Regions from separate parts of the Homo sapiens genome. Here regions 2, 3, 4 and 5 are each linked to region 1. The links come from fine-mapping of genetic effects on gene expression. A gene starts in region 1. Each other region holds a variant in brackets. All regions are shown on one strand. Distances are from middle to middle.

Region 1 (5,105 bases):
ACCTCATAATGTGATCTATAAGAGCCAGATGGTCTGACTCCTGCCAGCTTCCCCAACACCATCTACTCTCTGCATCAGAGCCTCTGTAGGCTTTTTTCAGTTCTTCTAACCTGTCATTCCCTCTGGCCACAGGACCTTTGCATACACTGCTCTCTCACCTATAACATTCATCTCTGTTTGTTAGAAAAGGTCACTTCATCCTTCAAAACTTGTCTCAATTTTCAGTTCCAAAGGAAAACACTCCCTTACCGTAGATAGCATAGTATGATTAAGAGCACAGGTTCTGGAGTTCTAAATCCTGTTTGCCACTTATTGGCACTATAGCTTCGAGCAAGTCACATTAACACTCAGTGCCTCACTTTCATCTTCTGTAAATGGGGGACATACGACTGTTGTGAGATTGAATAAATTAGTTCAAGCAAAGCAACAGAACAGTATCTAGAACACAGAATTCAAAATCTTGGCTTGGTCAAATCCCTCTATTTTATTTTCTTATAGCACCCGGGCATCTCCCCTAATACCATTTTACACTTGTTACAGTCTCCCTACTAGAGTAAAATTTCTAAGAAAGCAGAAACCATATTCATTCCCCAGAAGTGGAAGACAGGAGATATTCAGTAAATATTTGTTGAAAAAAATAGCTACAAGGACGAAGCTGACGCCCAAGGAAGAGACCTGTCCAATATACAAAGCCTCATGCGCCTGACCCCAAAGCCCACACTTTACACCATACTAACTTGCCTCCTATGTAAATGCATAAGTCTTACAGCTGCAATTGAAGTGGCCAACACAGATGAACAGAATGATAAAGATTAAAGAACACTAAACTGTATGGGAACACAGAAAACAGTGAAAGTCCGCACGCTGAATTGGACACAAAACAAACATAGGTGCCACTCACTTCCATGTCGATAAGCTCCAGCTCTCATACTGCCCACCTGGGGCTCGGTTCCCTCCTCTTTAAAGAGTAGGATGGGGCAGGTCGTCTCTAAAGTGTCTTCAACGTCTAAAATTAAATGACTATAAATCAAGTTATGTGGCAATGTTTTAATAATTATTTTTTAAAAGGAAGTTTAACAAGCACACTGAACCAGCTGACAGATGGTTTTCAGGGGACCTTCATTTTAAAGAATGTGTTCAAGTGCCTCAACAAACCTTATAAAGTAGGTTAGGTGGTCTGTGCCCCAGAATTAACGACAGACTCGACATTGACTGGAGACAGAGCTCAGAAGCACACACAAGCACTCCAACCTGTTTGTCAATCTGCCATCATGACAGCCTAGGTATACAGAACAGTCATGAAATGTGTTTAGAACAGTGCCAAAATCAGGCTCACCACTATACCGAAAAGGAAAGTAAGTTCACGGGATGCATTTGGTACACAGTAGACTGGGGTGTCATACAATTAAAACAGGCTTTCAAATGAAACGTAAAATCTATTGGCAGTCCTGACATGGTATAATACTTTAAAAGATAAGACAAACTCACAACCCTAACACTACTTAAGCAACAGTTCACAGTGTCCCTTCAAAAATGCTGGAAAGAGGCAACAGAACACGGAAACTATAAGGACACCTAAAAAGACACCCTGGAAAGCTTAAGACAAAGCCAATGCCGCGGGGCCCTGGAAGCAGACCTCGAGCAATATGCCTGCCCAAAGCCATCAGCCGCCTCGGAGGGCGTGCGGGCACCCAACTGCCTCTGCCCTAGGCCTCTCTGCTCCGCAGGATCCCCGCGAGGAACAGCTGCAACGAGGGATGCCTCCTGAGCCCGCTGCCACGCGAACTCCGGGAGGGAGGAAAGCAAGCGGTGTAGCTGATGCGGAACCGGGGCGCGGGGGCAGCCGGACCCAGCCAGCGCTCTCCCGGCGCCAGCCGCCCAGAGGCGGCACGGCTAGAAGCCCAGTGAAGCCCGGACCCGCGAGGCCCCGTTGCTCCTCACCTTCAGGGTCCGCAGCGCCGCGCTCAGCATCAGCTGCTGCGGCGGCCACCGCCCACGCCGTCCGGCAGCGACCAGCGGTGCTGTCCCGACCCAGAACCCCGCCATTGTTGTCCCCGCAGACCGCCCCTCTGCTGACCTCTCACACAGCCGGAGGGGGTGGAGAAGGGGAGCGCAGGAGCTCCGGCAAATCACGAGCCAGAAACCCGATGCCCCGCCCCCTAACTTGCGGAAAGGGGAGGGTGAGTGGTCGGCCAGATCCGCCGGATCCGGGATCCGGGAGTCGCGCTAGGACCTGGAGGGCTAGTCGGCGGGCTGCGCGTCCGGCCGCTAGCTGAGCTGGAGGCCACCGGCCAGAGCCGACCCCAGGAGTGAGAGAGACAGGGGCGTGCGTGAGTTCCGGCGGCCTGCACCGGGCAAACCCCGTACCTTCCCAGCATCGGCTCAGCAACCCACGTGCATCCAGGCCGGTCAATGTCATTGAGTCACCTCCGCGCCTTGGCCACCCTGGAGTCCCGAGAATCCGAAGTTCCAGACAAATGCCCAAACTACATTCCTGCATGTTCGAAAGCGTAAATTGCAAAGCACAAATCCAGGTAAGGTTTTTAACGACTGTAATAACACATAAAAAGTTCTAGGTCTGGAAATCAGAGATCCGAGCTCAAGTCCTACCTCTGGCACTTAATATGTGTGTGTGAAAGAAATTAGCCACAACTAGAGTCAGTCTTTGTTGCTCGCAAGCAGAAACCCTTGTTAGTACAACTACTGGCCAGGCGCAGTGGCTCACGCCTGTAATCCCAGCACTCTGGGAGGCCGAGGCGGGAGGATAACCTGAGGTCAGGAGTTGGAGACCAGCCTGGACAACATGCCGAAACCCCGTCTCTACTAAAAAATACAAAAATTAGCTGGGCGTGGTGGCGCACTCCTGTAATCCCAGTTACTCGGGAGGAGGCTGAGGCAGGAGAATTGCTTGAACCCTGGAGGTGGAGGTTGCAGTGAGCCGGATCATGCCACTACACTCCAGCCTGGGTGACAGAGCAAACTCCGTTTCGAAAAATAAAATAAAAATTAGTACAACTATTAAGGGCCGGGCCGTGTGCTAGAGCCTCAGATTCCCTCTTACTTGAGAGTTTACAAGAACCTTAATGGAGTATATATTATTTCCATTTGGAGAAACTGAAGCTGTAGCAGGGTAAAGTCACTCAGCGAGTAAAAGGTCAAACTAGGGTTTGAACCCAAATCTGGCTGCCTTGAGGGACTGGGCTCATGTTTTGCTATATTATGGAAATTTTAAAATATATACAAAAGAGATAAAATTGTACTATGATCACCCAGATACCCATTACACCGCGTCAATGAATCAACATTTTGTCAATCTTGTTTCATCTATTCCCCTTTTTATTTTGTGCAGGAATATTTTAAAGCAAATCTAAGACATCAGACCACCTCACCTATAAACACATCAGTATTGGGGGTTCTCCTCTTAACTACTTTGCATCTCCTGCAGAGTCACCTTGAGAGAGTTACAAAGCTAGGAATGGCCTAGAGTACACTACAGCATGGTAAATGCCCAAAGAGAGAGAAATAAAATGGGGATATCAGAAAGGTGACATTTAATGGAATTTTAGAATGTAAGTAGGGACTTTTGTGACAAAATGAAAAGGATTATCAATTTTACAGGACTTCTCACTTATGTACCTCAGTCTTCATTCATTTTCTACCTGGGAAACTTGCTTTTCTTTTTTCTTTTGTTTTTTGTCTTTTCCCCATGTTTTACCCTTTGGATTAGTTTTCCTTAGGCCCTGTTTGTTTTTCTTATAGGAGTTCTTTTTATGAAAGGCACTTGTAGCAGAAACTGCTTCTCATGCTATCCATTCTCCATGCATTACTTTAGTAAGAGTGCCCCTGAGATCTAGCTGGGTACATGGCCACCCAGCGAAAGGCTGCAATAGCTAGCCTCCCTTACAACGAGGTGTAGCGCCATGACTAAGGTCTGGAATGTAAGGACTGTGCCCTCCATGCCCTCTTCTTTCTTACCTAAACAAAGATCTACATTTCCCAACTCCCACTGCAGCAAGGGTGCTTACCAAGATTTGGTTACTAAGTTTTGGCCAATGGGACATAAGCACAAGTGACATAGACAACTTTTGGGTTATACCTTTAAAGGGAAAGGCTTGCTTTCCACTTGCCCTTCTCCTCTTTCCAGTTTGCCAGAATGTGGACACTACAGTGGAGGTAAAGTTGTCATCTCAGATGATAAGAAGGAAGTTAGGTGATCGGGGAGACAAAACAATATACCAGGAGCCTTTAGTGCCTGATTCTGTGGAGCCGCCACGTCAACCCTGGAGTGCTTTGTTCAGATTTTTATGCAAGCAAGAAAAATACTGTATCTTGTTTAAGTTATTGCATTGTGTTTTTTTGTTTTGCCTTTGTTACAGCAGCTACATGTGTGTCCTTACTGATAGAGGACTAATATTTATCTTTGCCTTTTCCATTTGAAGTTGTAGATTGTGGCCGGGAGCAGTGGCTCACGCCTATAATCCCAGCACTTTGGGAGGCCGAGGCGGACAGATCACGAGGTCAGCACTTCGAGACCAGCATGGCCAACATGGTGAAGCCCCATCTCTACTAAAAATACAAACATTAGCCAGGCATGGTGGTAGGCCCCTGTAATCCCAGCTACTCGGTAGGCTGAGGCAGGAGAATCACTTGAACCCGGGAGGCAGAGGTTTCAGTGAGCTGAGACTGCACCATTGCACTCCAGCCTGGGCGACAGACCAAGACTCCATCTCAAAAAAAAAAAAAAAAAAGTTATAGATTGTAAGGAAAATACCCCCAAGGAAGTTGAGGACACAGCAGACTTGGACTGTCTCCAAACCTGTTCATTCTTCTGAGTGCACTGCTCGGAGCATCCTATTGGGCAGCATATCCTGGCCTCCTTTCCAGTTCGATGTGGTACTATACCTGATTTCTGGCCAATAAAATATGAGAGGACATGAAATTCAACAGCCCCTGGGCTTGGCTTATAAAACCTTCCATGCAATCCTCCACACCTTTTCACCTCTCAGCTGCTGAGACTTTTCTAGGCACTACACAGAAGCAGCCTGGGTCTCCAGTAGCAAAGGAGAGCAGATCCTTCTCACTATCCTGCACCGAACTGTGACATG
Region 2 (5,105 bases), 440 kb before region 1:
TCAACTCGGTGCACGGCTCTTGCTTCTGCTTCCCAGCAAAGTCTGAAATGTATTCCAAGGATTTCAGAACCAAATGAAAATGCAGCTGCTGTGATCTTTAGTAACCTCATTCTCTGTTGGGAGAGCTCACTTACTCTTCAACTTAATGGCAGACTGTGATCGCTAACTGCATCTGGCACAAAAACATGATCATTATTTTTAGCTTCTTTTGCTTAATTGGAAACTTGCTTCACAAAAAACACAAAAAGGCTACGCTGGGTCTCAGCTGATGAGCTCGTGGCGGCCCTGTGCTTGATGAGGGCGGTGAGGCAGCCCAAGCTCCTTGTGACTGCCCTGGCTTGTGCAATGGGGAAGGGACCAGGCAGCGCGCTCATCCTCAAAACAAACAAAAACAGTGGAGACAGCACCCCCGGCCAACCAGGAAGCTTCAGGGTGACCTCCAGGGGAGTCAGCCACCAACAGTACACCCACATAGAGACACAGCAGGAAAGGGATTGCCAAAATCTGCATTTGCAGTCTCTGGTCCTTAGGAAGTTTTGAAAATCAGCACCAGGAGTGAGGGCCTCACTTCTAGAAGTAGTAAGGCAATCAGATGAAAAAATGGCAAGTGCTAATTTAATAAAGCAAGGCAGAGAACTGACTGACATTTATATCAATCTCTTAAAAGGATCACAAAGAAATGCTGGTAGTCTACTGGCAGAGCCTGTCGCCTATGTGTACATTGTCTTCATTCAAAGAAAGGGCAAACTAATATTTAGACAAATGCTCAGTTTTATTGATTTAATTTTGACACTAGGGAATCTCACAGCAGAAGTACAAATCATATGTACAAGTATTTATATCAATGAAAATTTCCATTGGTGATTTTTTGGCAGAATATTGGTCTTGACTCTGTGGAATAAATGACGACGTAAACGTAGCTGCACAGGGGTGTTCCTGTATAATGCTTGAATCAATTGTGTGTGAAAGCATCATGCAAATGGCTAATTAAATTGGGTGATGACTGAAAGGTTATAAATCCTTCATTCCAGCTCCACGAGCAGATCCCCTTCTCCAACTGTGTCTCCAGCTTGACAGTGCACAGATTTCACCTTGAATTTTGAAAAATGCAGGGGGAGGGGAGAGTAAGAATTAGTAACCAGAACCAAGAGGCGGCAGGCTCCTAATCCATTTCTAAAAATGCACAGTCCTGCAAGCTCAGCAGCACAGGGACAAGCCACCCCACCCCACCGGAGCCCATCGAAGGGACCCTGGTGAACAGGGAGGCGCCATGGTGGCCGTGGCCGTGGCTCACTCCTCCCCTTTCCCGTCTCCTCTGTCCTCGGCACCCTCACAGTGGCTGGCCTGAGGGCTACTCTCCGGAGCATTTGCGCTGTGGCCTGCGCTCTGGCACCCTCAGGTCTAGGCAGGCTCTTCACTGCCAGGTGAGTTCTAACCCCTAGCCTCCCTCTCTGTGGTTTTGAGGTTGTGGAAATGTTCTCTGAGAATTAATGGAATACTTAGTGTAAAAGAAAAAAAGGAACAAAACACACGACAGTCAGATCAGCTGCTGAGTAAGAGGAGGACCTCCCTGGCCTGACCTCCATTTTCTGAAGGGAAATGGAGTCCTTGGCAGGTGGGGCTGTGCGGTCGCCCTTTCCAGCACCATGGGTGGGTGGAACTGTGCCTTTTTGTCCTACCGGTTTCAGTCAATCTTTATCAAGTTTTGCTTTCCGAAATTTGTGTTCTGACTTAAAATTAGCAAGGAGGGGCTTGAGGTGGGGAAGAGACAGTCATTTGACTTCTTGGAGGCTCTTGCTTGGGCCTGAAAATGAAAAATGGATTAGAACTCATCGGCCACTGCAGATGCTGCTTGGACTGAAAAGGCTGCTTTCCACAATGCTCCTGCCTCCATTTAGCAGCCCTACTAGAGGA[C/T]GCAGTGTTAGTGATGCAGCGATGACCAGAGTAGAGGATCTGTTTCCTTTGTGAACTTTTTTTCTCTGGGAGGAAAAGTGGCCTCGCAGGTAGGAACCAGGGCCTGCTACTTTGCACGGGGGCTTCGGGCCACTTCTGCTCTTCTTGGCTGGGTTGGAACTGAGAGGCCTGGGGATGGGGTGAGGTGAACAGAATGCACAGGAAGACTCCAACTAGGAGGGCCGAGGGAGACCCAGGCCACGAGGACAGGAAACCTACTACCACATGGCACCATGCCCCTTCAGGGAACTGATGAGGCCAAGGTCATTTCTGCATTAGCACCTCAGACCTGCCGCACAGGGCCCTTGGCATGCGGCGGACACACGTTCTCGGTCCCCCACACCTAGGCCAAGTTCTCATCATGGATGGATGTCGTGATACTAGGGCAGCACAAATGTTAAATCCCAAAGAACAGATAAAATTTTTACATGAACAGAAACCAACATTTTCTTGTTCACTTTTTAAAGAAGTAATTTAGAAAGAATTCCTTAAAAACGCCACAAATCATGTCATTCTACTCTTCACACCATACCAGCACAGTGCAACTGTCCACACCCCTCCAGACCGGCGGGCTGGGCTCAGGAGCCCCTGGCATACACCTGGGCCTCTGTTCTCCCAGCCGGGACCAGGCATGACATCCCCGCTGCCCCTTCTCTGAGAATCCATTTCATTGCCTTCTGCAGTGACAGAGCATGAGACAGAGGTTGTGTGTCTCTCTGATGCAAACCTGGTTATGAACTGATGGATCTCTCTTTGCACCTGATGTCCCCAAGGCATGGCCACATGCAGAACACGGCCAGCCTTGCGCTTCCCATCATGCTCTCCCATGCAGACACTTCCAAACCACAACGGCCCTCACAAAAGGATCATTTACCTACTAACGGCATCTTTTCAGTCTTTTTAGTCACAGGAAGAATAATGAAGTTACTGCTTAAAAGGACTTTTCTATCTTCAAGAAAAAAATACACTTAAGTTTCACTATGAATGAATTTCAGTACTAATATTTTTTTCTCCCTAAATAATTAAGTCCCACATGTACATGGGGTTTTGGCTTCTCTTGATCTGCAACTGAATTGTTCCCTTTGTAGAGAAATTGTCTTGAAGAGTTACATTAATTTTTGCAATTTGTAAAACCATTTGCTGCTGTGTCACCTAAGTCTCAGATAACTAACTGCCTTCAAGACAGATGTAAACATTAAAAATTAAAGACCCCTTAATTTGAAAGAAAGACATTAAGGTGAAGAACAATTGTTCTTTGACTACCTGAACATAAAGCACAGACTTTTTGGAAGCCACGCTCTCTACGAGGCAGGGATGCATCAGGGCAGAATGGCAAAAGCTCCCAATCCTAACGTCCTCCTCTGTAGAAGCGAGGGGGAGAGGGCGCCTCTGTGGCCCTTTCCAGCCAAACCACCCACGATTCAAAGGTGGGCGTTCCTCCATCACAGGGCCGGCCTGGGCTGATGGGGACTTAGGGACTCACCGTGCCAGTTTTCCCAGCTGTCATACTATTCTGCATTTTCATGGCTTCAATCACACAAATTTCTTGACCTTCTGCTACCTGGAAAACAAAAATGGGCAGAAGTTTTAAAAGCATTCTAATTTTGCATTAACACTTAGGAATGAAGCCATTAAGAAATTCTTTGTCAAATGCCCCAAAATATGTGTCTATGAACAGCAGCAACAATCTCTAATGTTTCCTATTCCAAGCTCATCTTTAGGAACAGTAGAGAAAAGCCATTCTCTCTCTCATAAAGTCCTCGTTGGAAAAAAAAAAAATCCCTGACCCTGGAGAAGTGGGGACCCTGGCGGCGGGGCCTACCCTGGGGATCTCTGAGTCTGGCTCTGCCACTAACAGAGGTGTTCGGAAATTGGAATGTTTTCCACTTACCTGAAATGTCCAGAATAGGCAGATCTCTACAGACAGACTCGAGGTTGCCTGGGGTTGAAGAGGGAAGGGGAGTCACTGCTGAAGGGTACAGGGTTTCTTTTGAGAGTGATAAAAATGTTCCAAAATTGATTGTGGTGACAACTACACAACTCTGAATTGACTGAAACCACCGAATCGTACACGTTAAAGGGCTAAATTGTATGTGAATTACATCTCAGTATAGCTGTTACCAAAAAAAAAAAACCACCACCAAATATACATATTTCTGTCTATAGTCCCGGGGAACTGGGAACAGCTCGGCCCTGGCGCCACGAGGACCACTGTCCCATCCTCTGCAAGACACAGCGAGTACCCACAACAAGGCACAAGGCAGCTTCCGGAAAACCCTCCAGACACAGGAATGACTTCCAGAGCTACATGCATTCCATGCTAGGAGACTGGGAGCGCCCACGGGCCTTTGCTCAGACTGCGTTCAGAACTTGCCTTTCATCCTGAGGGGCAGCCAGGCTGAGCTGGGTTAAGCCCACTGGCGTTAAGCGTGAGGCTTCCCTGCAGGAGTGAGCTGCAGCTGAAAACCATGCTGCGCACTCACTTCGCTCTGCCCCGATGGGTCAGCGTCCTGAGCCGGCCAGGTTTTTCTTTGGCCTCCCAGTCTTTGAAACGGGCAAGTCCAGGTTCCTAGGGCAATGGCTATGTGGTGTGGGTGGGTGTCCTGGCATGGGGCTCCTGGCCCCTCACACCACTGTGGCCATATTCGTCCAATGCCTCAGAAGCGCCTAGAGAATGTTCTTTCCTGAAATCCCCAGATGATCTCCAAGTCCCCCTCTGGCCCCCCCGTGTGGCGCAAGCTGTCTTGCTGGCACTCTGGAGCGCCTGAGCCGATGTACTCTTTTCCTCTGCTGTTCAGGTGGTGGGCTGCTTCTTCCTGGCATAGAAATATAGGAAGAGAGACGATGCCAAGGCTTTGGCGCTGGCACGGAGGAGAGACACCGCGCTGAGGAGCTGGGCCTGGAAGCGCTGCCCGCGCTGCCCTTTTTGATTCATTTTCACGTGGCATCTGCATTCCAGGGAGAGCGAAGAATCAGCCTCGAGGGCTGTTTGCAGGGGGATGGGAGGGGCAGCGCAGAGACAATGCAGAGGCCCCCATCAGGGGTGTCAGAACAGTCACTCCCTCCAGTTGGCATTTTACAGCCTTTTTTCTCTCTTCAAAGGCAGGCAAAGACCAGGGAATCCAGGAGCAGGTCCAGTTCACTGCAGCACA
Region 3 (5,105 bases), 90 kb before region 1:
AATAATTTCCTCAGTGCCTAGCACAATGGGATAGGAAAATTTTTCAATAAATATATGATAAAGAACAAAATGCTGTTAACCCATTAAACATCCCAGCTCTCTTCTTGCCATAACACATACCCCACCAACACTTTTAGACAGAAATTCTTCCAAAAATATATCTCCCAATTCTGGATTTCTCTGCCATTCTCTCAGATCTGCCTTATTCTGTAAGTCAGCTTTACCCTCAGGCTAGCTACCCTCATGGTCACAATATGGCTGCCAGCAGCAACTAAGCTCTCTCATTCACAAGGTGGTGGGTGGGGGAGAATGCAAGAGAACCTGGCTTCCAATGTCTTTCTCTTAAGAATAAGGAGGTTCCTTTTCCAGGAATCCCAGGAAAGCCTTTCATCATGTTTCAGTGGCCCACAATGGCTTAAGCCTTGATTAATCCCTGAATCAATAATTGTCAGGGAAGATAAAATGATCCTGACTGGCTTCCACAAATCACCTGTGGTGGAAAGGATGTTGGCAAAGCAAACTTCACTGGAATTTGAGTATTTGTGTGCAAACATAAGCCCATATACAAGGATGCCAATATACATGCATTCATTTAAGCATTTGTGCAACGTAACCTCACCTACTAGCCAGACAGAAAGTCAAAGAAGCGTATTAGTAATTAATACCAGGGGAAAGAAATCGGAGGAGACAAAATCAGAGGAGAAAGAAATCAGAAGAGAGTGGCCACCTTAAACTGGAATACCACATACATACAACCTCTGTATCCACACCTACCCCCTAACTCTAACTGTTCTTAGGACCTGAATGGTCAATGGTTCCCATGGGTTGTCTTATGGGGCTGTTTTTCAATACTGAATAATCCAGCCTGAGGAAAATAAACCATTGTGGGAAGAGGAATCTTGGATCTTGGTATTAGATTAACCCCAATAGGCAAGAATGGGGTTTACGGAAAAGCAAATGATTTGCAAAGTATAAATTAGAAGATAGCTTTGTTTTCACAGAGAGCTATGATGCTAAGAACAGCAGGACAAATTAAGGAGTGAGGACGTCTACAGGTGGATGCCCAAGAGAATTTAACTTCTTCTAGGGCACTGTTTCTTCTTTAAATTTTTCTGCTCCTATGTAGCAAAGTGTTCTTAATCACATAGTTCTTCAGTCTGATATGCACTGTTGTTACAGTGATACAGAAGTGCATCACATTAGGTCAGAAGTGATACAGAAGTGCACCACATGCTTAAAACTCCTCCAGCAGCTCCCCAATGCACTCAGACCTAAATCCCAGCTTCTTAGAATGACCCTAACTGATCTGCCCTGAGCCACCTACCCTTTCAACCTCATCTTGTACCACGTGTTTTCTCATTCATGATTCTCCTGCCACACCAGTTCCTTTCTCTATATCCAATCTCTATATTCTATGTCTCAAATCTCATTCCAGCCTCAGAACATTTAAACCTGCTATTCCCTCTGCCTGGAGAGCTCTTACTCTAGATCTCCAAGTGCTGGCTGCTTCTCTCATCATCAGTTATTAGTCAAATGTCACAACCTTCTTGGCACCACCACCATTCATGACCACCACACACACACGTACACACACACACAAACACACACACACACAGACAGGAAAATAAACCATTGTGGGAAGAGGATGACCCTTCTGTAGATGTCTGCCTTGGGTCAGGCACTAATCCTTGATCCAATCAATTGTCAATAGATGACAGGATCACATGATAAAGAAAGCATGGTAATTTAAACAATTTAAGGAGCTGCATGCAAAGAGGCAAACAGAAGCAAGACTATAGGTAGCAAGTCAAGTATTCATGACCAAACTGAGCTGAAAACGCAGAAATGATTAACAAGCGGGTCTACCATGACCTCACTTCCCTAAAAGATCACGACAGCATTGAAGGGCAAAAAAGTGGCAGATTATTACCCCAATTCAATACTAGCTGTACATTTTAG[T/A]CTTTTTTTTCCAGTAAAATGCAGAAATCATCTGTTTCTCTTATGCCTTAAAACCCAGCAGGCATGAAGGGTGGCATGAAAGTCATTTTGAGCACCTCTAAGGGAGTATACATTTGTGTTAATATTATTCGTCAGTATGTAAGGTATGTTTATTATAAGATCAAAATTATTTATGGAAGCAATACTTAATTGTGTTAGGGTATGTCAAGGTACAAATACTTAACTTTATTATTCTATAAAATTCAAGATTAAAAAAGCCCATCCAAACAAGCACAAATATATATATATATATATTTTTTTTTTTTTTTTGAGAAGGAGTCTCGCTCTGTCACCCAGGCTGGAGTGCAGTGGCACGATCTCGGCTCACTGCAAGCTCCACCTCCCGGGTTCATGCCATTCTCCTGCCTCAGCCTCCCGAGTAGCTGGGATTACAGGCGCCTGCCACCACGCCCAGCTAATATTTTGTATTTTTAGTAGAGATGGGGTTTCACAGTGTTAGCCAAGATGGTCTCGATCTCCTGACCTTGTGATCCGCCCGCCTCAGCCTCCCAAAGTGCTGGGATTACAGGCATGAGCCACCGCGCCCGGCCCACACATTTTAATTAATTAAAAAAATGTGGCTAAATCTTGTGTCTAAATTATTTTTTTTTAATAAACAGGCATTAAAACAGGATCAAAGAAAGAAAAATATTACAGAAAACAGTAATTCTGTATCTCCGTCCCCACCCTCCGCAAATAAAATCTTAGTATTTGCCAGAGGAAATGCTGCCTGAACCTCCTATCCTTCTAAATTTGGTGCATCTTAAGAGATTCTGTGTCAGCAATTGAAGCCAGTGCTGAAGCACAACTACAGCAGACCACTCTCAAAATTCTTAAAAACCCATTTGGGATTTGTCAGTAGGGGGTAAATTAAAGCCTTATGGATTGAGAAGCAAATAATTTGAAAAATGTACAGGGGCAATGAACCCTGAAGTTATCAGGCATCAAAATGACTATAAAAGTGTTTTGTATAGTTTACCTAAAAAGACCTAAATTTTCTATTTTTCAACTATTTTCTAAACATGTGTAAGACTGCTAAACTTGGCCCTGGGGTTTAAGATACAAGTTACCAAATGTATCTAAAACTATTAGATCATTTGCCTAAGCATCTTTTCTACGTTTTAAGTTGAAATAAAATCTACCCAACATCGAAATAACCATACAGGGTAGATTTCCTGAATCAAATTAAATAATCCACTGATTTTCTATAGCAAAAGTACACGACTACATAAAATATTTATCACATATTCATAAGTGGAGAGCAAAAAAGAAACCCTGAATTAAATTGAAGTCTGGGAATACTGAAAAACTCATCCCAGAAATGTTGCTATAAGTCCTAACCACCTTCAATTCAGAATTCTACCTCTACTACTACATAGAACTGTTATAACAGGGAAAAGAGAAACTTCACTTTCATATTAATGATTATCAAAAAAAAAAGATCTCCTTCACAGTTGAATTTTTAAAGACATACTTTATATAGTCTACTTAGTGCCATGTTCTAATTTTTAGTAACTAGAAAATTGAAACATAATCAGTATGATGGGAATATTTTCTTTGGTCTTTTTTAGTTCTGAGAATGTTTGAAGACTTGAGTTATTTTTACATGGACTACTTGAAGGTGATGATTTTTTTCGTCCTTATGTTTTACATCTTAAAATGTTTTATAAATGGTAAAAACAGAAATAATCCATTTTCTTTTTCAACAGGGGGCCCAGGCAAGACTTCCTTTGCCAAGATTCAAACAGATACTCCCTTCTCAACACAGGATGAATGTGTATAACAGAATAAAACTTAAAGCTCACGTTTAGATTTTTTTCAGTTTTTTACTAAAAAGAATCTAATATGTTTACTAAATAATAGACAACAGAAACATGAATTCTACATTGCCATCTATGACCCTTAGTCTAATAGACCAAGTCTTATTAAAACTAGTAAAATTTTCATTATGCAAGACACAATTTGTCAGTAATTGAAAAAGGTCTACAAAATTAACAAATAAATACTACTCTGACACTAGAAAGCTGGCAATGATGATATAAGCTTTAGTCTTCTCATAATCAGAACTCTGGAAGATTAATCAACATTTTAACACTTCCCATCTGTACAACTGCTCAAGGTAGTGCTTACTGTCACTTGACAAGTTGCTTAGCATTGCAAAATTTGATAATTCATGTCTTACTGAATTTTTACTGACTTGGAAGAAAATAAAACACCAATTAAAAGCAGATGTCACCTTTAATTCTAACTGGCTGAGAAACTTAATTTTTTCACCCAATGCAGTGATAGGACGCATGTAGATGACAGCTTGGACAGTTAAACACTCAAAGTCACTGATATCCCTCACAAATTTGCAAGCGATTTACCAGAACTTAATCCCACAGGGCTTTTATCTGGCAAGCATCCAAAAACAACAGTTTCAAGTAGTCATCTAGAAGGTAAATTTACATTTTTTACAAAGGCTACAAACACTAATCAGAACATTACTAAACTAATATTCTCAAGACTTGCATTTTTATCCTCATACACATAAACATTTTCCATGTTGCTCCTCTGTTAAAACTCTACCTAATTAAAAAAACTAATATAAAGACTTAAACTGTGACTAACATGCCTTTATATTTAAATGATCCAAGTGCTAAATCACATCTAACTGGATTTACAGTAAAATAATAAAAATCGGACTTGAGTCCTGACATTTGTCAATGTTTTTCAATAATGTAAGTCATAAATTCACTCACTTTTGATTCTAACCACCAATTCTGAACAAATTCTCTTAAGCTGCAAGTTTTGACTAGCACCACAAAGATAAATAAGTAGACAGATACATGGGTAGATGTATCATACAAACACACAGAAACAGCAATATCAAAACGTACCTTCTTGCAATAAACCCAAATTTTTATACACATGTAAATAATTAAACTTAAAATGTATAAAGAATTATAACATTTTCTTCTAAAAACAGCTAGGCCTGAGTTTTCTAAAGCTACACCATCTATGCATGAAGTAACTTGTAATCAAATCCCAAGTTCCAAAAATGCTTCATTTTAATATATGAAGTTTTTCTACAAAAAGAAAATTTCTGGATTTTCCCAAACACCACA
Region 4 (5,105 bases), 390 kb before region 1:
TCTTGCCAGAAAAATTAACAAAAACAATTCTGTAAGTTCTAGAGTTGGGGTTGCCAGTTCAAAGAGCAGAACTCTTTCAGAGAAACTCCTCTTACAATTGACCTAAGCAATAACTCAACTCTAGAAATGCTCACCACACATGTGCTGACTGGTTTGTAAGTAGCTGTTATAATATGGTTGTGCTATCTGCGTTCAATTTCAACATGGATCCAGAAACCTTGCCTAGAAACTTGCAGAGCACCTTGCCCCATCAGCAGGGCTGCCACAGCTAAGTGGTTCTAGGCAAACACTCAAAGAGGCAAAATATGGGAGAGAAAGAGATGGCTTAGCTAGCCAGTGCTTTAAAGAACAAAGTAGCTGATAGAGAAACACAGGCCCAATCCATGCACCCTTTCCACTGTCATTAAAGCAATGGGGTGGGAACAGCTTTTCTCTTCTACACCCATTCACTCCCTTCCTCCTCTTCAGCCCTGTCCCCCTCTGTTTAGACTGCTAAATATTAAAGCAATCCTTCCCCTCTGATTTTAAACTCATTTCATATGAGAGAGAGAGAGAGGGCAGGAAGGGAGGGAGAGTCAGTGAGAGGAATGTGGAAACGGAAGACAAAACCAGTGTGAAATTTAAGTCGTCTCAGGCCTATATTTCTAAGAACAGCCCTAGGTCCTATCAGTGCATCAAACAGGGAGCAATAAAAACCAAACCAGTCACCACCAGAACTTGCAAAAGAGTTCACAGCAGTGGCTCCTACCGAGGTGCTCACCAGAAGCACTGGGCAGCTAATTCAAAATGGGTGTGAAGCAGCTGCCCAGGTGACTGGCTCCACCCAGACCCTAAATGCTGTTGAGTTAAGATTTATAGTGGAAAAAACAATGGTTTCTTTCAGAGCTCCATTAGTTTCTTCTGAGTTCTAGCTGTCTATTTGATATGTGTTAATATCTGGAAGAAACTGGTATCAATAGTGGACTCTCAAATTCTACATATGCCAAATATATCTACAGGGGGGAAAAAAGAAAAATTCAAACATCTCTAATGCTCTTTCTGTAACTTCAGTCCAGCTTTTATCTCAGAGATCCTGAACGTGTTGTTTAGAAGTCTAGAATGGGAGTGCAGAGGCGACCAGAACACATCAAAAACTTGAGGTGCAGTCTGATGAGTTTCTCTACTCCCTGCTTAGTAAATTTAGAGTTTTCTATTTTTGGAGGACGTAATCCCTATGCACACTGCTTTTAGCATCTAAGCATTTTCCTCAAGATGGGTCAAAGTGTCAAGGGTTTCACGAGAGCCTCTGTCAATTCCTGCAGAACACGGTGGATCTGCTAAAGACTTAAAATAGGGACACAGTCCTTACAGTTTCAGCTTAAGGATCATAAACACAAACGACCACCTGAGACCACAGAGGACCGGATATGAGCTACTTATAGTCATACTGAGCCGGAGAACAAGAATAGCAGGAAAGCGGCCAGTTTTCTTGTAGTGAGGTTCTTTGAAGTAAAGTATTTATTAAACATTATATTATAGTGCATGAAACAAAAATCTTTGAAGGCAGGTTATCCTACTCTGCACAGTGGCCACTGCTAACGAATTACTTCCTTTTCCTCTCAGGTTTTGTTTTTCTATTTGTGAAACTGAAACCCAGATTGTTTTCCTCCATCCATGAAACCAGCTGGCACAAAGCACTCCTTCTGGTAATAATGTCCCATCAATGGAAACAGCATTAAAAACGATTCCAACCCATCACTTCACCATCACACACAAGAGGATGTGCAGATTAGGGAGGTGCTCTCTAAATATTGGTCAGCAACTTCTCTAAAATAGAAAACCAGGCTGTTAAAAATGATAAAATGACTAGAAATGGCAACAATTAAAATGGGGCTTCCATTTTTATTTAAAAGCAAAATTTACCGATTGCATTTCTCACTTCCTAACTCTAGACTGATACGCCTTATTTCAGCTAGCACTTTCTATTTCTCAATAAAGTACCCCAGATATACCAGTAAGAGCCTCATCTTAAAGAAATGTCCAAAAGAAGACCAAGAGGGCGGTATAGTTTATTCTTCTGAACCAATTATTAACTTAAGAGTCTTTGCCTGGGGAAGGAGTACTGAGCAGC[A/G]GAACTCCCAATGAGCCAGCACAAACGGTCACATGCTGAAGATGCAATGGAAGAATCCTGGCCCATTGGCCAAAAGGTGTCTCCGGCTAAGTGTGTGCTGAGAGGAGAAAAGGACAGCGCCGGACACATGGCTGGGTCTGTTTCAACGTGGCTGAGAACAGTGGGAAGCTTTTTAAAATCTGGGAATACATCAAAGGGCTAATGCAGATTAAGCCCAGCTCCTTTTTTTTTTTTCCCTGAAAGGCTCACTTTTGTTCCTAATAGAAAGACTTAGATGGTATTTCTTCAGATCATAAAGCAAGTTGTACTTTTAATGATGGAATAAAAATTATAAAAGTAAAACGTGGCTTTTCCTCCCCATTCTTTTTTTCCTTTTTTAAGTGATGAATTCAGGAAAAGACCAGTCTAGGCCAAATTTATCTCTTGTTAACCTTCAGGGATATGGAGTACGCCAAGTATGTTAGTACAAAGTCAAATTTGGATGATGTAGTCATTTTTTGCTAATTCCATTATTAGAAACATTAGATAATATGGTAGTATCTAAGGAATACAGCTTTAAAAATAGTATGCACCTTCACTATCAAGACTGTAAGGCAAAATCAACTTGTGCCCACGACTGAACTTTTGAAATAGAAAATTTTGTTATATCCATGTTAGCCAGGCTGGTCTTGAACTCCTGACCTCAAATGATCCGCCCGCCCCGACCTCCCAAAGTGCTGGGATTACAGGCGTGAGCCACTGCACCCGTGGCATGCACCTGTAATCCCAGCAACTCGGGAGGCTGAGGCAGGAGAATCGCTTGAACCCAGGAGGTGGAGGTTTCAGTGAGCTGAGACTGCACCATTGCATTTCAGCTTGGGGAACGAGCGAACGCTCTCTCAAAACAAACAAACAAAAAACCAAAACAAAAAACCTTGTTATGTCAATAAGAGTATTTCTAAGTGGGTTAGCAGCTCCCTGACAGGCTACCTCTCCAGCCTTCCCAGGCCCACCCATCCTTGGTTCCCTCTCTAGCCTCACAAGACAGCGCTCTTCTCATCACACTCAGGCATTTCACTGGAGCCCCTGATCTCGCTTTGCCCTCCTCTCTTGGAGCCTGCCTCATCAACTGTCCTCTCTTCCCTCTCTATTGGCCCCTTCTCTTCATCCTGAAAGTCAACCTGAGTCATTCCAATCAACAAATTCTCTCTCGACTCTGCATCCCTCCTGGCTACTGCCTTCTGACCTGACCCATGTTCTCCACACAGTCCTCTGCTCTAGCTGCTGCAACCACACTTGCACTCACGACCAAACCAGCCCTACGTGGCTATCGCCACCACTGTTCTTCCTAACTGACAAGCTGTCTCAGGTACCCACAGGTTAGATATTTCAGGGGAAATGACTGTTACAGAAATGTTCATGTTAGAATGAAGAAACAGATCAATACACATCAATCATATTAAAAAGGTGCTTCTAAGACAAAGCATATATTATTTTTATTATTCATATTCAATATTTTAGGAATTAAAGCAACGATGTTTCTGCAAATTTATGGTTTTGAATTGATGGTACGTTGTAATAATGCATAGATAGGGTCTGCCTGAGCTTTCACCCCAGGAACTGTAAACTTTATATTACAGTAGTCCCCCCTTATCCAAGGTTTTAGCTTTCCAAGGTTTCATTTACCTGTGGTCAACCATGGTCCAGAAACATTATATGGAAAATTCCAGAAATAAACAATGTATAAGTTTTAAATTGTGAGTCATTCTGAGTAGTGTGAGGAGATCTTGTGCTGTCCTGCTCCATCCTGCCTGGGTCATAAACCCTCTCTCTCGGGGTCCAGCATCTCCACGCTGTAGACACCCCCACCACCAACCAGTCACTTAGTGGCCATCTCAGTTACCAGATCTACTGTCAGGGGGTCTCAGTGCTTAGGTTCCTTTTTTATTTTTGAGACAGAGGCTGGCTCTGTCGCCCAGGCTGGAGTGCAGTGGCATGATCTTGGCTCGCTGTAACCTCCACCTCCTGGGCTTAAGCCATGCTCCCACCTCAGCCTGCCGAGTAGCTGGGACTACAGGTATGTGCCACCGTGACCGGTGAATTTTTGTGTTTTTTGTAGAGGCAGAGTTTTGCCATGTTGCCCAGGCTAGTCTCAAACTCCCGAGCTCAAGTGATCCACCTGCCTTGGACTCCCAAAATGCTGGGATTACAGGTGTGAGCCACTGTGCCTGGCAGGAACTATTATTTGACTTCACAATGGCCTCAAAGTTCCAAGAGTATGATGCTGGCAATCTGGATATGCCAAAAACCAGCCATGAAGTCCTTCCTTTAGTTAAAAGGTGAAAGTTCTCAAGAAAAAAAAAAGTATGCTGAGATTGCTAAGATCTACAGTAAGAATCAATCTTCTATCCATGAAATTGTGAAAAAGGACAAAGAAATTTGTGCTAGTTTTGCTGCTGTACCTAAAACTACAAAAGTTACAGCCACAGTGTGGGCTAAGTGCCGAGCTGAAATGGAAAAGGCATTAAAGGCAAGCGTATACAGGGTTCGGTCCCATCCGCAGTCTTAGGCATCCCCTGGGGATTTTGACATGGATCCCCCGTGGAGAAGGGGGGCTACTGTACAGTACACTTCCCTTCAGCAAGCCGCATATTCAAGTTCTCTATTTCAGATTCCCCTTCGTGACTGTCATGCAGGAAGCAAAGAAAACCCATTGTGTCCAAGGAAATTTTTACTTTCTCTAGGGATTCAGAAACCTGACTTTCTGATACTCAGAAACTCAGTGCGCATGGGTGAGAAGGCTCGGTAGGGAAGAGGTGCTTTGTAGCTCAGGATCTGCTGGAGCTGAGGGCGTTTTTTGGTTTAATCTAGTTTCACTGTGTGTTTCATGGAGAGGTTCCTCTAGGAACAAAAGGTTCTATGGAAGTCACGTCCTTTATCCCTCTTAGCCATCCCTGTGTCTGCCTTAGCCAACCTCCCATTTGTAAAAAGAAAGCAGAGACCAGGCTATGGCTGA
Region 5 (5,105 bases), 41 kb before region 1:
TGACTCCCCAGGCTGGTTCAGATCCTCCTGTTCCACACTTACAAAACACCCTATAATTTTTCATTACACTAATGTCATAAATGTATGTAATTATAAAATGTCTGCTTCTTCCACTGAACTGGAAGCCACAAGAGTGCAGGAACCACAACTGCCTAGTTCAAAAGATGTGGAGCATCTTCACATAACAAGTGCTCAACGGTATTTGTTAAAGGTTGAGTATCTGTCACTGCCTACAACCCCATACAATGAACATAAGCTAATATAATAAAATACTGTAAAGGCATAAGTTTTTTCCAACACTTTAAAACACTGTATAAAAAAAAGCATACTAGGTAAAAATTGATAATGCGAAACCATCGCCACCACCCGTTTCCAGAACTTTTCATCCTGCAAAACAATGTGAATGTGCTTAATGTTACTGAACTGTATGCTTAAAAATGTGTGAAATAAAATTGTAAATAAAACTGCAAGCTCTCCAGATGAGATGCACTCCCTGTGGCTAATATACCCACATTTAGACAATGGGTCCAAGCGGCCATAGCAGAGTGAGAGAAGAGTGGTCACCACCCTTCGTTCTTGGAAATCACGGCTCTTGATTAAGAACTGTTCTTAAGCCAGAACAGTTCCTGTGACTGGGGCCAAGAAGAATTGCAGCAGAAACCTCCCCTGCACCAGCCTTTCGAAGGAACATCTGACAGAGACACTTCTGGCACCAGATTAGGGTTCAATCTGAACCGAACAAGCTTGAATCCTTCGTTTGCACAGACCTCACAGAGAATGAGGGCAAGAACTTTCCCTACTTAAGCCAAGCCCCTTTTTTTTTCTCTTTAGAGCAACATTTTCACTAGTGAAAACTATGCCTCCCCAGTCTGCAAGTTTTTTCTATAGAAAATAAAGCTCTCCATTTTTTCCTCCACAGATCTCATCATCTTTTGATAACAAATGGTTAAAATGGTAAACTTTTATGTTATGTATACTTTACCACAATTGAAAATAAATTACTTTTTTAAATGTAAAAAAACTGATACATGGAAACACTTCTTACTGAAAAGAAAAATTACACGAAACCTTCACAAATAGGTTGTGTAATTTTGAAACCAAATTTCCCTATCACATGTAGAGCATCCCAGCTGAGTTTCATCAGTGCAGCCTGGGGATCTGTAACATTTAATTAATACAGTCCACGGAAGACACTTTGCTATATTTAATTATAAAGTCCCCTTTACAAAAATACCTACTATCCATTTGAGGAATATACTATAGACCCGGAAACTAAACTAATCTATCATTGATTTACAGGAAGATTTGCAATCAACTAAATACTCAGTTGTTTACAAAATAAGACATTTTCAAATACTATTTATAAGCAGTTGTACCTCAACTTAACAATTTCTACAAACTCTCCATTGGATACACCACACCCTGTCCCCACACCTCGAGAGTGCTTTTCAGTGCATCTAATTAAATAAATGAATGCCTGAAGATAGCAACAATGAATTTATATCTATTTATCTGAGCTAGAACCTCTTTTCCTTTGTACAGGTTCCAATTCAGATGAATGACTCAGATATAAATCCACCACTGCCATCTCCAGACAGCATTCTGTCTTCCTAAAAGATGCCTACTAAACTTTTCCCTTTGCTACTCCAACTTGGCAGCTGCCACTGAGCAGCAGCAGGAACAAGCAGCAAAGGAAGCAATCCCAAGTGGGGTGAGTGACTGGCTATAGCCAGAGTGCCAGAGCCAGCAAAACAATGCCTCGACTTGCTAAGTAGGGCAAGTCAGGTATCAAGTGGGTAACTTGGATAAATTGATGCTTGAAATTGAGCAAAAACACAATTTTGAGATCTGACATTTTTCTCTGGTTTTTGTGGACTTCAATAAATTTAGCACAAAAAAAGGATGGCACAGTGAGTTCATATTTCAAAAGCTCTCTCTACTTCAAATGTACAACAATGACAATAAAACCCAGAAAGGAAAACTAAGAAAACAGGTAAGCAGAAATAAATGGTAAACATTTCACAAACTCAAAACAGGAGAAAAACGCATAACAATGCTAACCACTGGCTGGTTCCTCAGAAGCAGGAAGTGCCAAATGCAAAGTACAGATGGCGAGAATGTTCTCACAAGACTGAGAAGAGAGCCAGAGCCACTGGTGAAGACCAGGCCAAAGAGGAACTGCCCTTGGCCTGAAGAGGAGGCCACCAAGTATTGTCTGCAACTACAGCTCACTACAACTCCTGGAGACTGTGGACCTAGGGAGGCAGAACCACAGCTTCAGGGTCAAAATCTGAACAAGCTGCTGGGACTAATCTGCCATGTGTCCAAACTATCACCATAAGACCTGGATGTAGATTAGGAATCCAAAATGCCGGCGGGGGGGCACCCACAAAACTACTGGTCAGGGAGAAGGTGGGAGGCAGCAATGGCCGGGGTGAGAGAGAAACTAGGAAAGAGAGAGGAAGAGGAAGGTCAAGGAAGCAAAGGGAAGGGAGAAGATGAAGCATGAAGAGCAATAAACATTTTTAACTTTCACCAGAAAAAAGAGCCTATGAAC[T/C]AAAATTCCAAAACAGAGTAAGAAAGCATTCGCTATCAAACAAAACTTCAGAAACTGAAACAGTTCACATTAGATAAACTGCCCCAGATGAAATTAATTTTATCAGTCTAAAAGATTAAAAGATTCACTAGAAGATTTTAAAAGACCTTGCTAAAGAAGCAATAACGAAGTGAAGATAGGTGACTAGATTCCAAAATTATTTATGAAAAGGACTTGCTCATAAATTGGAAATGAGAAATGAAAGAAAGAATGATGGTGAACATAAATTCCTACATCTTGTGCTTCTGCAGGAGGATTCAGATACAAGAAGCCCGAAGGATCAAAGTTCAGTTTGGGTAATGCTGGGTTTGAGGTAGTGGTAAAACATTCAACTAGAGACGTCACAGAGAGAGAGAAAACAGAGTTGGAGTCTAGGGTTGATTAAAACCACAGAAACAGAAGTGGAAGAGAATGCCATCTTTCAGGGTAAGGGTAGAGAAAGTACAAAAAATAAAACAATTTTAAGAAGAGCCCACCAATCAAACCTTGAGTGATTCCTGTAGAGGGGACACAGAGGAGGGCCACAGAAGTAGAGAGAAAACTAGGAGATTAAAATGGCACCAAAGCCAGAGGATGAGAGTGTCTGAAAAAGGGTAATAGTGTTAAAAGATTCTGGGAAGTCAAACAGAAGAGGACTGAAAAATGTCCACTGGACTTAACATGAGAAAACTGGTGGTCACACTAGCAAGAACTCTATAGTAGAGTACTGAGGACAGAAGCAGACTGGGGTGACTCAGAGCCTTTGCGCACGCGGTCTTGTCTGCCTAGCTGGCTGACTCCTTCTCATCCATCATTCTCAGCTTACATTTTACCCCTCAGCAAGACTTTCCCTGAGCACCCTATTACTGAAGGGAACCATGATTCTCTCTCAACAACTTGTTTCCCTCATAACACTTATCACAATTTGTAATTATTTATGTTTTATTTCTCTATACCCATCTCTAAAGCAGCAATCCTATCACTTCCAGTCACTCTTCTAGTTCCAGTACCTATCATAGTACCCAGCCTCCAACAGGCACTAATAAAAACTCTGCCTTCAAAGTAATAAACTTCACTTCGTTTTGTGGTGGGAGGGGACTTTTCCTCATACTTAGTATGAGAAGCAACATGCACAGTGGAAACAGTACAACTTAGAAGTTACACATAATTTGAATCTCAGCTCCACTACTTACTAGCCCAGTGATCTTTGGCAACCCGAAGATTGGCTTTATACTTGAAGCCCCAATTTTCTCAATTTAAAACAGTAACAGTAATTCAATCCTTATGTAATTATGTGCTTTTCCAGTACACCATAGATTCTGAATGAGTGAGAGGCATTATTTGGAATAATCATGTCCTTTCCCTCCACTAAGGAGTCTGAATGAGGGAGGCTGTAAAAATGAGTTAAGTCATGGCCTTAGAAACACTGGAACATAGAATAAGGTAAACTGTATATCAAATCTTTTTTTTTGTTTTTTGTTTTTTGAGACGGAGTCTAGCTCTGTCGCCCAGGCTGAAGTGCAGTGGCGCGATCTCGGCTCAGTGCAAGCTCTGCTTCTCAGGTTCACGCCATTCTCCTGCCTCAGCCTCCCGAGAAGCTGGGACTACACGCACCCACCACCACGCCCGGCTAACTTTTTGTATTTTTAGTAGAGACGGGGTTTCACTGTGTTAGCCAGGATGGTCTCGATCTCCTGACCTCATGATCCGCCTGCCTCGGCCTCCCAAAGTGCTGGGATTACGGGCGTGAGCCACCACGCCCGGCCCTCAAATCTTTTATTATATGTATGCTTTTTCAGTAAGATAGGACTTCTGATCCTTCCCAAATAGCTGCTTAGAGAAAAATAAATCCATGATTAGGTGCTTTTTCATAACAGCAGGTACTAATTACACTGAAATACATAAATTCCCTTTAAAACCATGTTGTTTAAGTTTACCAGAAATTATAAAATAAACAAAACCAAAAAGATATATTAATACAATATTTCACTTTTTTCTTAATTTAAAATTTTAGTATAAGTAAAAAGTAACTTCAGTATAAGTTATTAACAAAAAATTCAGAAAGTCTTAAGACATCTCCTTAACGTTTTATAAAAGAAAATATCCACAAGTCACTTCCCACAGATTAAAAAAAGCTGGATGGTTTTATTGAATTTAAATAGCAAGGTACATGAACATACAAATGAATAAGTCATACATGAAGATACTGATATAAATCCTGCCCAAATATAATTTTTGCCTGACTGCTAAATAAAGTCATAGTCCATCTTGACTGGAATGACTAGTTTACCTTTAACTCCGGGTGGCTTAAGCTATCAGTCCTTTAAGAAGCTTTACTGGTTTTTGACAATTTAACCTGCTGAGCTCACAGCACCCATGGGAGGGTCTTGGTTGCAAGTTTTACTTCTGATGCTGCTGACCACTAATACTGACTCCATTGATAATGGATTTCAATAACAGCCATCCACAGGTTAACACTGAGTATTACCCATAACACTGCTTTAATTAAGTTAATACATGAAAGTCACAG

Alleles and levels. Alleles are on the strand shown, and positions count from the first base shown. SD is a standard deviation of normalised expression in the study named. Not every link is listed here.
For the expression in monocytes of the gene that starts at base 2,074 in region 1, C is the high allele of the variant in region 5 and T is the other (large effect, 1.0 SD a copy in Quach 2016).

Evidence for each region.
Region 2: its variant is fine-mapped to the expression of PCCA in lung (TOPMed, PIP above 0.99).
Region 3: its variant is fine-mapped to the expression of PCCA in whole blood (TOPMed, PIP 0.94).
Region 4: its variant is fine-mapped to the expression of PCCA in whole blood (TOPMed, PIP 0.96).
Region 5: its variant is fine-mapped to the expression of PCCA in monocytes (Quach 2016, PIP 0.95).

The regions. Positions count from the first base shown.
Region 1 is chr13:100,086,062-100,091,166 of GRCh38, reverse strand. It overlaps PCCA (propionyl-CoA carboxylase subunit alpha), which reads right to left and starts at 2,074. Exons shown (of 24, transcript NM_000282.4): 1 at 1,942-2,074. The coding sequence starts at 2,046. It overlaps PCCA-DT (PCCA divergent transcript), which reads left to right and starts at 2,224. Exons shown (of 2, transcript NR_132422.1): 1 at 2,224-2,534; 2 at 4,440-5,105. RefSeq lists a silencer at 1,745-1,924 and enhancers at 2,205-2,464, 2,495-2,544.
Region 2 is chr13:100,526,084-100,531,188 of GRCh38, reverse strand. It overlaps PCCA (propionyl-CoA carboxylase subunit alpha), which reads right to left. Exons shown (of 24, transcript NM_000282.4): 23 at 3,437-3,514; 24 at 754-1,091. The coding sequence ends at 1,023. It overlaps GGACT (gamma-glutamylamine cyclotransferase), which reads left to right. Exons shown (of 3, transcript NM_001195087.2): 3 at 1-1,009. Among named protein-coding and RNA genes, the nearest start is that of PCCA-AS1, 48 kb to the right of the region's middle. RefSeq lists an enhancer at 1-820. The variant C/T (reference allele first, on the strand shown) is at 1,915.
Region 3 is chr13:100,176,240-100,181,344 of GRCh38, reverse strand. The region is part of intron 6 of PCCA (propionyl-CoA carboxylase subunit alpha); the gene reads right to left. Among named protein-coding and RNA genes, the nearest start is that of PCCA, 90 kb to the right of the region's middle. The variant T/A (reference allele first, on the strand shown) is at 1,960.
Region 4 is chr13:100,480,494-100,485,598 of GRCh38, reverse strand. All of the region lies in intron 21 of PCCA (propionyl-CoA carboxylase subunit alpha), which reads right to left. It overlaps PCCA-AS1 (PCCA antisense RNA 1), which reads left to right and starts at 4,584. Exons shown (of 5, transcript NR_047686.1): 1 at 4,584-4,619. It overlaps LOC107984574 (a long non-coding RNA gene), which reads left to right and starts at 4,392. Exons shown (of 3, transcript XR_007063850.1): 1 at 4,392-4,479. The variant A/G (reference allele first, on the strand shown) is at 2,111.
Region 5 is chr13:100,126,847-100,131,951 of GRCh38, reverse strand. All of the region lies in intron 4 of PCCA (propionyl-CoA carboxylase subunit alpha), which reads right to left. Among named protein-coding and RNA genes, the nearest start is that of PCCA, 40 kb to the right of the region's middle. RefSeq lists enhancers at 1,865-2,365, 2,366-2,866. The variant T/C (reference allele first, on the strand shown) is at 2,558.